Homo sapiens: one gene and its partner. The protein of the gene in region 1 interacts with the protein of each later gene in a biochemical or structural test. Each region holds a gene or a part of one and is shown on either strand. Other genes may lie near its edges.

Evidence for each region. Proteins that work in one complex are often made in the same cells at the same time.
Region 2: of the proteins of OSGEP (region 1) and EMCN, one has a biochemical effect on the other in vitro, tested with the Homo sapiens proteins (one study listed by BioGRID).

The regions. Positions count from the first base shown.
Region 1 is NC_000014.9:20,444,800-20,449,292, forward strand, and holds the end of OSGEP (tRNA N6-adenosine threonylcarbamoyltransferase), read right to left. Parts: intron 4,468-4,493; coding exon 4,372-4,467; intron 4,215-4,371; coding exon 4,165-4,214; intron 4,013-4,164; coding exon 3,934-4,012; intron 3,373-3,933; coding exon 3,307-3,372; intron 3,196-3,306; coding exon 3,105-3,195; intron 2,892-3,104; coding exon 2,816-2,891; intron 2,722-2,815; coding exon 2,623-2,721; intron 2,481-2,622; coding exon 2,441-2,480; 3' UTR 1,602-2,440; downstream 1-1,601. UniProt on the Homo sapiens protein: Component of the EKC/KEOPS complex that is required for the formation of a threonylcarbamoyl group on adenosine at position 37 (t(6)A37) in tRNAs that read codons beginning with adenine.
Region 2 is NC_000004.12:100,507,260-100,512,296, reverse strand, and holds part of EMCN (endomucin isoform 1 precursor), read left to right. Parts: intron 1-954; exon of another isoform or gene 955-1,164; intron 1,165-5,037. UniProt on the Homo sapiens protein: Endothelial sialomucin, also called endomucin or mucin-like sialoglycoprotein, which interferes with the assembly of focal adhesion complexes and inhibits interaction between cells and the extracellular matrix.

The DNA of each region.
Region 1 (4,493 bases):
CCAGGAAAAGAGGGAGAATTATCCCTTTTTTTGAGAAAGAGTCTTGCTCTGTCACTCAGGCTGGCATGCAGTGGCACAATCTTGGCTCACTGCAACCTCCGCCTCCTGGGTTCAAGCGATTCTCGTGCCCAAGTAGTTGGGATTACAGGCATGCAACATCATGCCAGCTGATTTTTTGTATTTTTAGTAGAGGGGTTTCACCATTGCTGGTCAGGCTGGTCTTGAACTCCTGGCCTCAAGTGATCCACCCGCCTTGGCCTCCCAGTGCTGGGATTACAGGGGTGAGCCACTGCAACCAGCCCTGACTTCTAATCAGTAAAATATCCTCCTATCGACGGTGACAATCCAGTGTCCTCTGAGAAGCAAAATCAGCTCTGGTTGAGAACCACTGGTTTATGGTAACAGGAGGAAGGCAGAGTACATGGGTACAGATACTGGAAGATGGTTAGTTTCAGGGGCAAAAGCTTGTAAATGTATACTGATTGTTTCTATTTTCTTACTGAAATAGGAACTAAGGTAAGAGTCAGAATAGGGGGAGATGTTAAGAGATTTGAGGGGTCAGAAGGTATGAAACAGTCACTAGAAAAGAGGGCAAGTGAAAGGACTAGAGAGATGGCATATTTCTGGGTGGCATAAAGGACCCATTTTAGTGTCATGGTCGTAAGTTTGAAGTAAGATCAGTCAGCATGGCTATTTTTTACTAGCCCTTTCAGCTGCATGGGTCTAAAGTAGGTGATGAGTTGAATATGACAAAAGCAAAAGAGGGGAAGGGAAATGAGGTGGATTATGGGAATTTAGCTGAAGGAGGGAAATAAAAATACGTGGGGGATAAAATCTGCAGAAAGGAAGTATGATCAATGGACCGTAGGTCCTGGTGAAGGGATGAACTGTTGGATTTAGCATACTAAAGAAAATGAACTGGAAGAACAGGAGGTGGTGGTAGTCGAGAGTGGGACGTCTGAAACTGAGATGTGGAGGATCTGCAGCTCCAGAACATGACCAAGGAAATAAGTGGCTGAAGCGGGTGTTAGTATGATCTACCTGAATACTGAAATAAGATTTATGACAAACGTGGTGTTCGTATGGTAGTTTCTTTCAAAGCAGAAGGGTACTAGGGATGAGGGATAATGGTCTGGAAACAGTATGAGGACACGTGCACCACCTCCAGGCCCAGTGGGACACTGGGTGTGGAAGGGAAAATGCCACCACTACTGAGGTGGTAGGAGAAGCAGAGTCCTCATAAGAAACCAAGTCTGAAGAGCATAAATGTGAAGGGAACGTTCAGAGAAGAGGTTGAGGACACAGAGAATTTGACAAATGACTGGCCATCAGTTCCAGAGGGCACAGTGGAAGAGCTTCTAGAGTTGGAAAAGGTAGGTAGATGGAGACAAAACAGAGTGGAGATACATGGTTATTAAGTGTAAAAGATGAGATGACTCAGTAGTTTAGGACTAATTGTGATGATTGATATCAACATCAATAAGATTAAGGGTATGAGATTCGTTCTGTTGTTTGTGGTACGGAGGGATGTGCATCTGCGGGCATTCCTCAAGCCTGCCGATGGATGTGCATGTAGGAGAAAGTATACGGAGTAGAGGCAGTTTTAGAGTTACAAGTTAGACCAATCTCCAGGCTGTTTGTTTGTTTGTTTTTAAGAGACAAGGTTTTGTTCTGTCACTCAGGCTGGAATGCAGTGGCTCAATCACAGCTCACTGCAACCTCAAACTCCTGGGCTCAAGCTATCTTCCCGCCTCAGCCTCCCTTGGAGCTGGGACTACAGATGTGCGCCACCATGCCCAGATAATTTTTACATTTTTCAAATAGATGGTGTCTTGCTATTTGCCCAGGCTGGGCTCAAACTCCTGGGCTCAAGGGATCCTCCTGACTTGGCCTCCCACAGCACTGGGATAACAGGTGTGAGCCTCCAGGCTATTTTGAGAGAAGTCTTGCACACCTACTTCAAAGAATTTAAATGAGAGAATGAATGTAAAGCAGTTAGCACGGGACCCGATGCTATAATAATAGTTATGATACTACTATTGTTGCCAGGCACAATGGCATCCTTACTCAGGAGGCTGAGGTGGTAAGACTGCTTGAGCCCAGTTCGAGACCAGCCTGGGAAACACAGCAAGATTCCGTTTCTTAAAAAAAAAAAAAAAGATACCTCATTCTTGGTTCCACAGCAGCAAGCTCCAACAAGAATTTATCCAGCACCAAATCTACATTGGTCCTGAACAACACAATCCAATCACCAACATACAAAACCAAAAAACCAAAAATATTTTATTGCTGAGTCATCCTGGGGTTCCATAAAGGACCCCAAGCCTTGCTTGGAGTCTATAGCTTTGCTAGGACTCCCATGACATCAGGATAGAGATTGAGGCACGGGGTCCTTTGGGTTCCGATTAAGGAACTATCTACTCTGATTCTGTTGATCTTATTAGTCCCTCCAGGTCACCTCTACTTCATCTGTCCGATACCTGTGGAAAAACAGAAGAAACATGGTGGAGAGCGAGCCCTTAACATCCTTCATTCTTCTCTGCCCTCATGTTCCTGGACTCTTCCCTGCTGTTTTTGTCTATGTCCCAATAATCTACCCTCACCAAGAGGTGAATCACTCACCTCTGTGTAACCCCAGAATCACTGAGTGGGGTCCTGTGTCCAGCCCGAAACATCTCCCAGCCAGCCTGGGCTATCATCGCTCCATTGTCAATACAGAATCTGGGATGCAAGAGAGATGAAAATTGGGATCTAAGGGTGGAAAATCACTATAACAGGAGAAGTAAAAAAGAAACCAAAGGGAAAGTGTCTTTACCTCTCATCTGTAGCAAAAAGCCGGGCTCCACGTTCCTGGCACATTGTTGCCATCATCTCCTGTAGCCTCACATTACCTACAAAGAGGCAGGGAACAGGATTAGCTTAGTTTTAGCCATCTCTTCATGGTCCAGCAGAACACGTCATGTGCACTCACTTAGAACAATGACATAGGGGATTAGGGGCAAGGATTGGGAAGCCTACTCCAAACGCTTAATGATTTAGAGTACCAGGAGGAAGACGCATAGTGTTAAGAATAGGAAAGAGGAACACTTTTCAATAATACATACACCCCACTCCTCCCACAATGAGGGCCTCCTGGGAGCCACAATGTGCCATGGCTCGCTCTGTGATCTCTACCAGCATTGCAAACACAGTTTCCTGTCAGGGACAGATAAGGAGAAAATATTAGAGGGGCATCCCAGATTAGTTCTGCTCTACAATATAAAACCTTCAGCCCCAACTTTCTGTCCCAGTTTTTTACTGCATTACCTGCAGGGAGAAACACAGATCCTCAGGAGTACACTCGCCTGTGGCCAGCATCCGATGGGCTACATCCTACAATTAAAGGGAAAAACAAAAGAATCAACAAATCATGGTTTTGGGATTACACGAGAGCAAAAATTAATGCATTCGGAGGGTCATCATGTTTCACCACAATTCAAGTTACCAGCACATCCTGTACCACATTCCCTTCACTGGCATCATGGCATAGAATGAGCAGCTTTCATTTAAGATGCAATCATTACTTTTTGAATACTTGTCCTGACATCTCTCACCCCTTACTTATCCTGCTTAATTTTTCACCTGTACTCATCATCATCTGGCACTTCATTATTTTCCTCTTTCTTATCTCCCCCGCCCCCCATTTAGAATCTAAGCTCCATGTAGACAGGGATTTTTGTTTTGCTCCATGCTGCATCTCTACTATCTAGAACAGCATGTGGCACACAGAGATATTCAATGAATACCTTCTAAATGAATTTACCCAGCACATGATATGGACCAGTACTGTGCTACATGAATATACTGAGCTATACGAAATATAATCGTAAGTAAAACAGATATGCTTCATTTAAAAAGCATGAAAGTGCCCGTCTCATCACCTCTCACACTCACCTCAATGAAAGACAGGATCCCTGAGAATGAGACGTCCATCCCCTTTACAGTGTATGGCAGCTCAACTAGCTTCTTGCCTCTATGTGGGAATAAGCGTACGAGGCACTAAGCCTACAGTCAGCTGGCTTCTCACCCTCCAAAGCCCGTCCCAAATTTTGTTAATATATACCGTATATGGGGAAATCCCTGAAGCCCCAGCAGCCAGCCTGCTTCCACCTTATGTCCCCTTACCGCTTTGCCATCTGTTCAATGTTGTATCCTGGACTTGGGTCGTTAGAAATCTAGCAGAAGAAAAAAATAAGGAAGGAGGGAATGGAAGAGGATGAAATCAGATATGCAGGAAGCATAAGAAGCTCATTTACTATTTCCTCCCTCCACCTCCATGGCTTCCCAAAAATTCACCCACATTTTATGTTCTCTGCAGCCCCACTGGCTTACCTTCAGCACTCGAGCAAAACGATCCAGACAATTACCCACTGCAATATCGATGGTTTCCCCAAAGATACGGTAACGATGTTCCGAGTATGCAATCACCTAAGGGTGATGAGGAAGTCCATGAA
Region 2 (5,037 bases), on another chromosome or scaffold:
GGGGCAACCATAAGAAAAATAGATTTTTAAAACTTGAATAGAGGTTTCATATCCTATAGAATGATATATGTAGAGATAATCATAATTAGTCCCAAAGTAGAAGAAGTCACCGTATGAGCATTAGATTCCTGTTGTGTCTTTCCCTACATCTTCTCTGGCCACGTTTACTCCAGCCATTGCTATGGCAACCAGCTACGCACGGGTGTAACCTGACAGCCGCTTGCCTCACTTTAATGCATATATCCTGCTTTCTTTCTGGTGCTATTCTGTTATAAAGGTGCATTTCAGAATCTGGCATTATCAGATGCCTGAACTAGAAGTGCAGGAGCATTAGCATTCTATGAGACAGCTCCTGACAAAAGAGGGAATGGAGTCACTGAATACATAAATGCTTTTCTCTTATATTCCTGCTCCAGTTTCATTGTTTTAGTCCTTTTCTCCTCTTCCTATTTTTTTTTTTATAAACTGTCTGAACAGAAGCCCTTGTTTCAGGCTCTGCTATTTAGGAAAACCCAGGATTTATTATTTTTCTTGATGAGAACATTTTAGTTTAGATGGTAGTGTATATCTAAGTAAAGATTAGTTTTGGTTTCTCTGACACTCTCATTAATATGTACTACCCTTCTTCCTTTTCATTTCAAAGAAAATGAAATATCTTTGATCAATCTTTTGTTACATAAGCTTAACAATATTCTAAACAGATTCTGTTCTAAGGCAATTATTTGCCTGTTTGCAGTAATGAATTATACTGTGAGGTTAGTAGTAAAAAATGTTGATGTCATTGATTTTATTCTTTCTGTACTTCTCAACTGAAATGTGAACTGTTTTTTTAAATCCATTGAATCAGTCATACTCTAGCTGAAACCTGTATTAGTTGTGTCAAAGACTAGAGAATGGAGATCACAGTTGGGAACGGTCCAAGTTAACCCAAAGAAGTATTGTCACAACATCTACTAACATCTACCATTTATTGTGCCAGGCACTTTACACACATTACTTCCATCACAAATTTCAAGGCCAGCTTTATCCCATCTTACTGATTAAGAAACAGATGCTTGGAAATAGTATAAAGTTACACAAGGCTGGTGTGGCTTAAAATCAAAGCAAGGACTGTTGCTCTTCAGCTACCTTCTGATGTAGTGACACTTCAGTAAGTTGAGTTTTCTGAAAAAGAATAAGGATAAAGACTTACCGCTCGAGTAATTTAGAAGTCACTACTCCGCCTCACAGCAACTTCAGCCTTCTAAACTGACAACTAAGACTATAATGCCATAAATGAATTTTTACCTAGCAATAATGTTTTCTTAATATTCTGGATTCAATTAATTCTTAGGGGATGGGTTGGAAGGAGTTGTAGGCATTTGCCTACCAGTCATTGTTATGTTTGTTGAAAAAAACATGTACTTGGCTATAAATGTCAGTGAAGCTAATATGGGACTTGGAGAAGAAGGAAAGAAACAAAGAGGAAATAGCTATCAGTGAATTAATCACTTGGTGTCACGTTTATAATGCTTCTGGAGACAGATTGTCTGAGTTCAAGTTCCAGCTCTGCCACTTACTAGCTGTATAAACTTGGACAAGTTACTCAACTTTTGGCTTCCTCAGCTGTAAAATGGAGATGATTGCCTTATGTGGTTCTTGCAATATCTCTACAAGGAATTACCTCATAGGGATATTGGAAGAATCACACAAGGTAATATGCAGAAAGCACCCAGAATAGCGTCTGATATGAGATAAATGTTATATAAAGTTTTGCTGAGTTAATGGAACTCATATCCTGCACCGTAGATGAAATATTTTATTTCTAAGTTGATTCCAATCCAGAAGCAGAAAATATTTAAACAATTACAATGTTAATTCTCGCAAAGTGAAAAATGAGCATCTGAAAATTTTTCACAATAGAACTGTTGTAAGATGACTGCCAAGTAATATTTTAATTACAATATATGCAGGCACAATTTTATACATTATATGCAAACAGGTGTATTTTCTCAAATATCTTTCAGATTTATGTTATTTACCTTCATCTATAAACTAATCACTCAAATTAATAAGCAAAATTGTGTTTGTATTTAATTAAAACTCTTTTTAGTCTGAAAATAGTCAACATCCTCAAATATTGTTACTACTCTCATAAAGTATTGAGTGTTGCTTAATCTGAGAGGTTGAATATGTTAGTGGAAGGAAACACGGTATTAATGTGAAAACTTAAGTTTGAGTCTAGCTTCTAAGTATGTTCAAATTGGCCCAGACATTAAATCTTTCTTAATCCCAGTTTCTGCATGTAAAAAATGAGAAGAAAGATACATATTGACATGGTATTGGTGTTACATGACAATGGGAATACCCATTTTAGATACTGTGCACATCATAAATTACTAAAACATTAGCTATTATTGTATAAGTTAACATTAACTCACAGAATCAAGAGAGAAATAGGAAACCGTTCCATAAATTTCAGAATTTTCCCTTACTAGTTGGGCCTTTAACTGCCATTGTATCATTTCTATTTTAGCCATAATACCTTTACATAATTTTTATGGCTGTTCACATCCAAATGGCCATGTGTTGAAATAATGCTTCAGTTATAAAAATCACACACACAAAACACGGAAAACCATTTGTATCACACATTGAATTTATTTTTAACTGAAGTGGGAAAAGAAATACTTTTTTGTGGTATGAACTGTGAAATCGCCCTCCTAGGGTGTTCAGCAAGTGTGAGAACATAAGCGTTGAGTTCTTGGGCACTCTCCCCAGGATACAAAGGCCACTCCTACATTAATGAGCTCAAAGCCATTGTGACAACTCTAAACAACCATGAGAATTCTCCAATTATCTCTCTCTGCAAACCCAGTTTTTAAAAGTGGGACTCACCTTTTTTAAATGCACAGAGTGAACTAACTTAAAGATTTATTAACTAATTGCATTATTGGGATTAGAATAATTAAATGATGTGATCAGTGAACTTTTTATTTTTTCTCTTTCCTTTTCATTTTTTGACAGCCTCATTTGTTGGGTACAAGTTTTATATCAATTAAAGTTTAAAATTCTTAAGGTATACAAAGGAGAAGAAAAAATCATTTAGACATCTATTATTAGGTTTTGTTACAACTTAACTGTATATAGGAAGCAAGGACAATTTCTAAGTGACTATTTTTGTGTGTGTTTCCCAAGACCTATTTTTGGGCACATAGGTGATATTTCGTAGCTAGCCCTTGCTTTAATTTGGAGAATTCTGTTTCTTCAAAAGTCAGAAGAGTTGAAAATACCCAAGGCATTCCTAGATTTGTTTTCAGTTACTTGAGGGCAATATTTATTTTTATCCCTGGCCTCTGTAGAGCGGAAGCAGTAAGTGTATTTTGGAATACTCGTTTGGTTGGCTAAACTTATTTGATTTGCTTTATGAAGTTGACCTACCCTCTTACTATTGTATAAATAGCAGAAAATACTTAACTTTGAATTATAGTGACTGTTCAAATCATACCAGAGTGTCATGAATATCTGAACACAAGTGCCAAGTCATTCCTATTACTTGCTCACATATACAAAAATTAGTGGTCTGTAATTCATCAGGTAATTCTGAACCATTTAGATCAGATTAGTCCCCACCCCCACTAGGATAGACTGTAAAATTATGAAAATTCAATTGTAAAGGCACTTTGATTACATAGTTTGCCTTTCCAACTCTGAAGTCTTAATTCAGTATGTTGAGTAATTAACTTTATCCTAATCTTGTGCAGAAGCAAAAGCACCACATAATTCAGTTGTTCCTAGATCAGTAAATAATCCAAACGCCCTTTGTGCAATTGACATGAGATAAACCACCTTGTTCTTTGTTAAATACAGAATCCTTTCCCCATAATACATATGCTATTCATTAGAATATTACATAAAAGAAAGGGTACTTTCACTAAAAAAAAGAATATATTTGGCAATATAACAACTTTCTTATATTTTTCCCATTGAGCCCTGACTGGTGTGACAAGCCAGCATACTGAAGTGGTGAAGAGTACACTGAACCTTTGAGCCAAGAGCACTTGGGTTAGTTACCAGGGGCCACATGCTTGCTGTGTGACTGAGGCAGGCAAAATTTTTAACCTCTCAAGGCTTTAATTTTCATGTCTATAAAATGAGTGTGGTTTAATCAAGTGATATGAAAGATTTCTTCCAGATCTACAGTTCCATAACCTTTGTGTAACAAACAATTCTTATACATTTTGCCTGAAGTTATCTTGCTTCATTTTCATCCTGTTATCACTAGATACGCTTCTTCTGCAGCAAGATGTTTTATTCTATTCCCTAATGTTTACTTCCTTTAGAGATTTTTCAGTTAGGGATGTTAGAAAGTGTCCACTTTGCATGTAAAAGGCCAATTCTCTGTCATGAGAGTTATTTCTCATAGTACACATCAACAAAAAAACATGTTTTTCATTTTTCCATGTGGTCTCATTTTTATGCAAATGGGAGATATTTGTTAGGCGTGGGGCTAGAAAAAAGACTTGGAGAGAGGGTGGGGACAGAAACCAACATCCGGAAAAAAGATTGAGAATAAAAATGAGGTTAAAAGAGATTGAGGAAATGACAGATGCTGGGAGAAAGACAGAAACTGTCTAAGACAGCTGGGAAGCTGGGAAGAGGAGATGGGGAAACTCATTAATTGGTCTAAGGATTTGGGAAGAGTATTCTGCACAGGCCCTCTAGCCACTCTTACAAGGCCAGTACCCAGTGGAGTTCTTCCTTCTTGCCATTAAAGCTCTTGCCAATCCTTCTTCCCTCCATCCACTCAATGTGCAGTGTGCTCTTTTCACTGTCCCATACCCACAAGGTAAGCAGAGATGTTTACCTTTCTAGGAAAGTGTTAGAGTCTAGGGCTTTCAGGGAAAATATTGGTATAAATTTAATCTAAATTATTATTATTATTTTTTGCTTGTACTAGTTTAAGATAAATTTGGCCAAGGACAGATTTGGTTAATACAAATATTAGTCAAAGTGCTGAAATCTCACTAGGCATACAGGCTTAAATTCCAGCTTTGT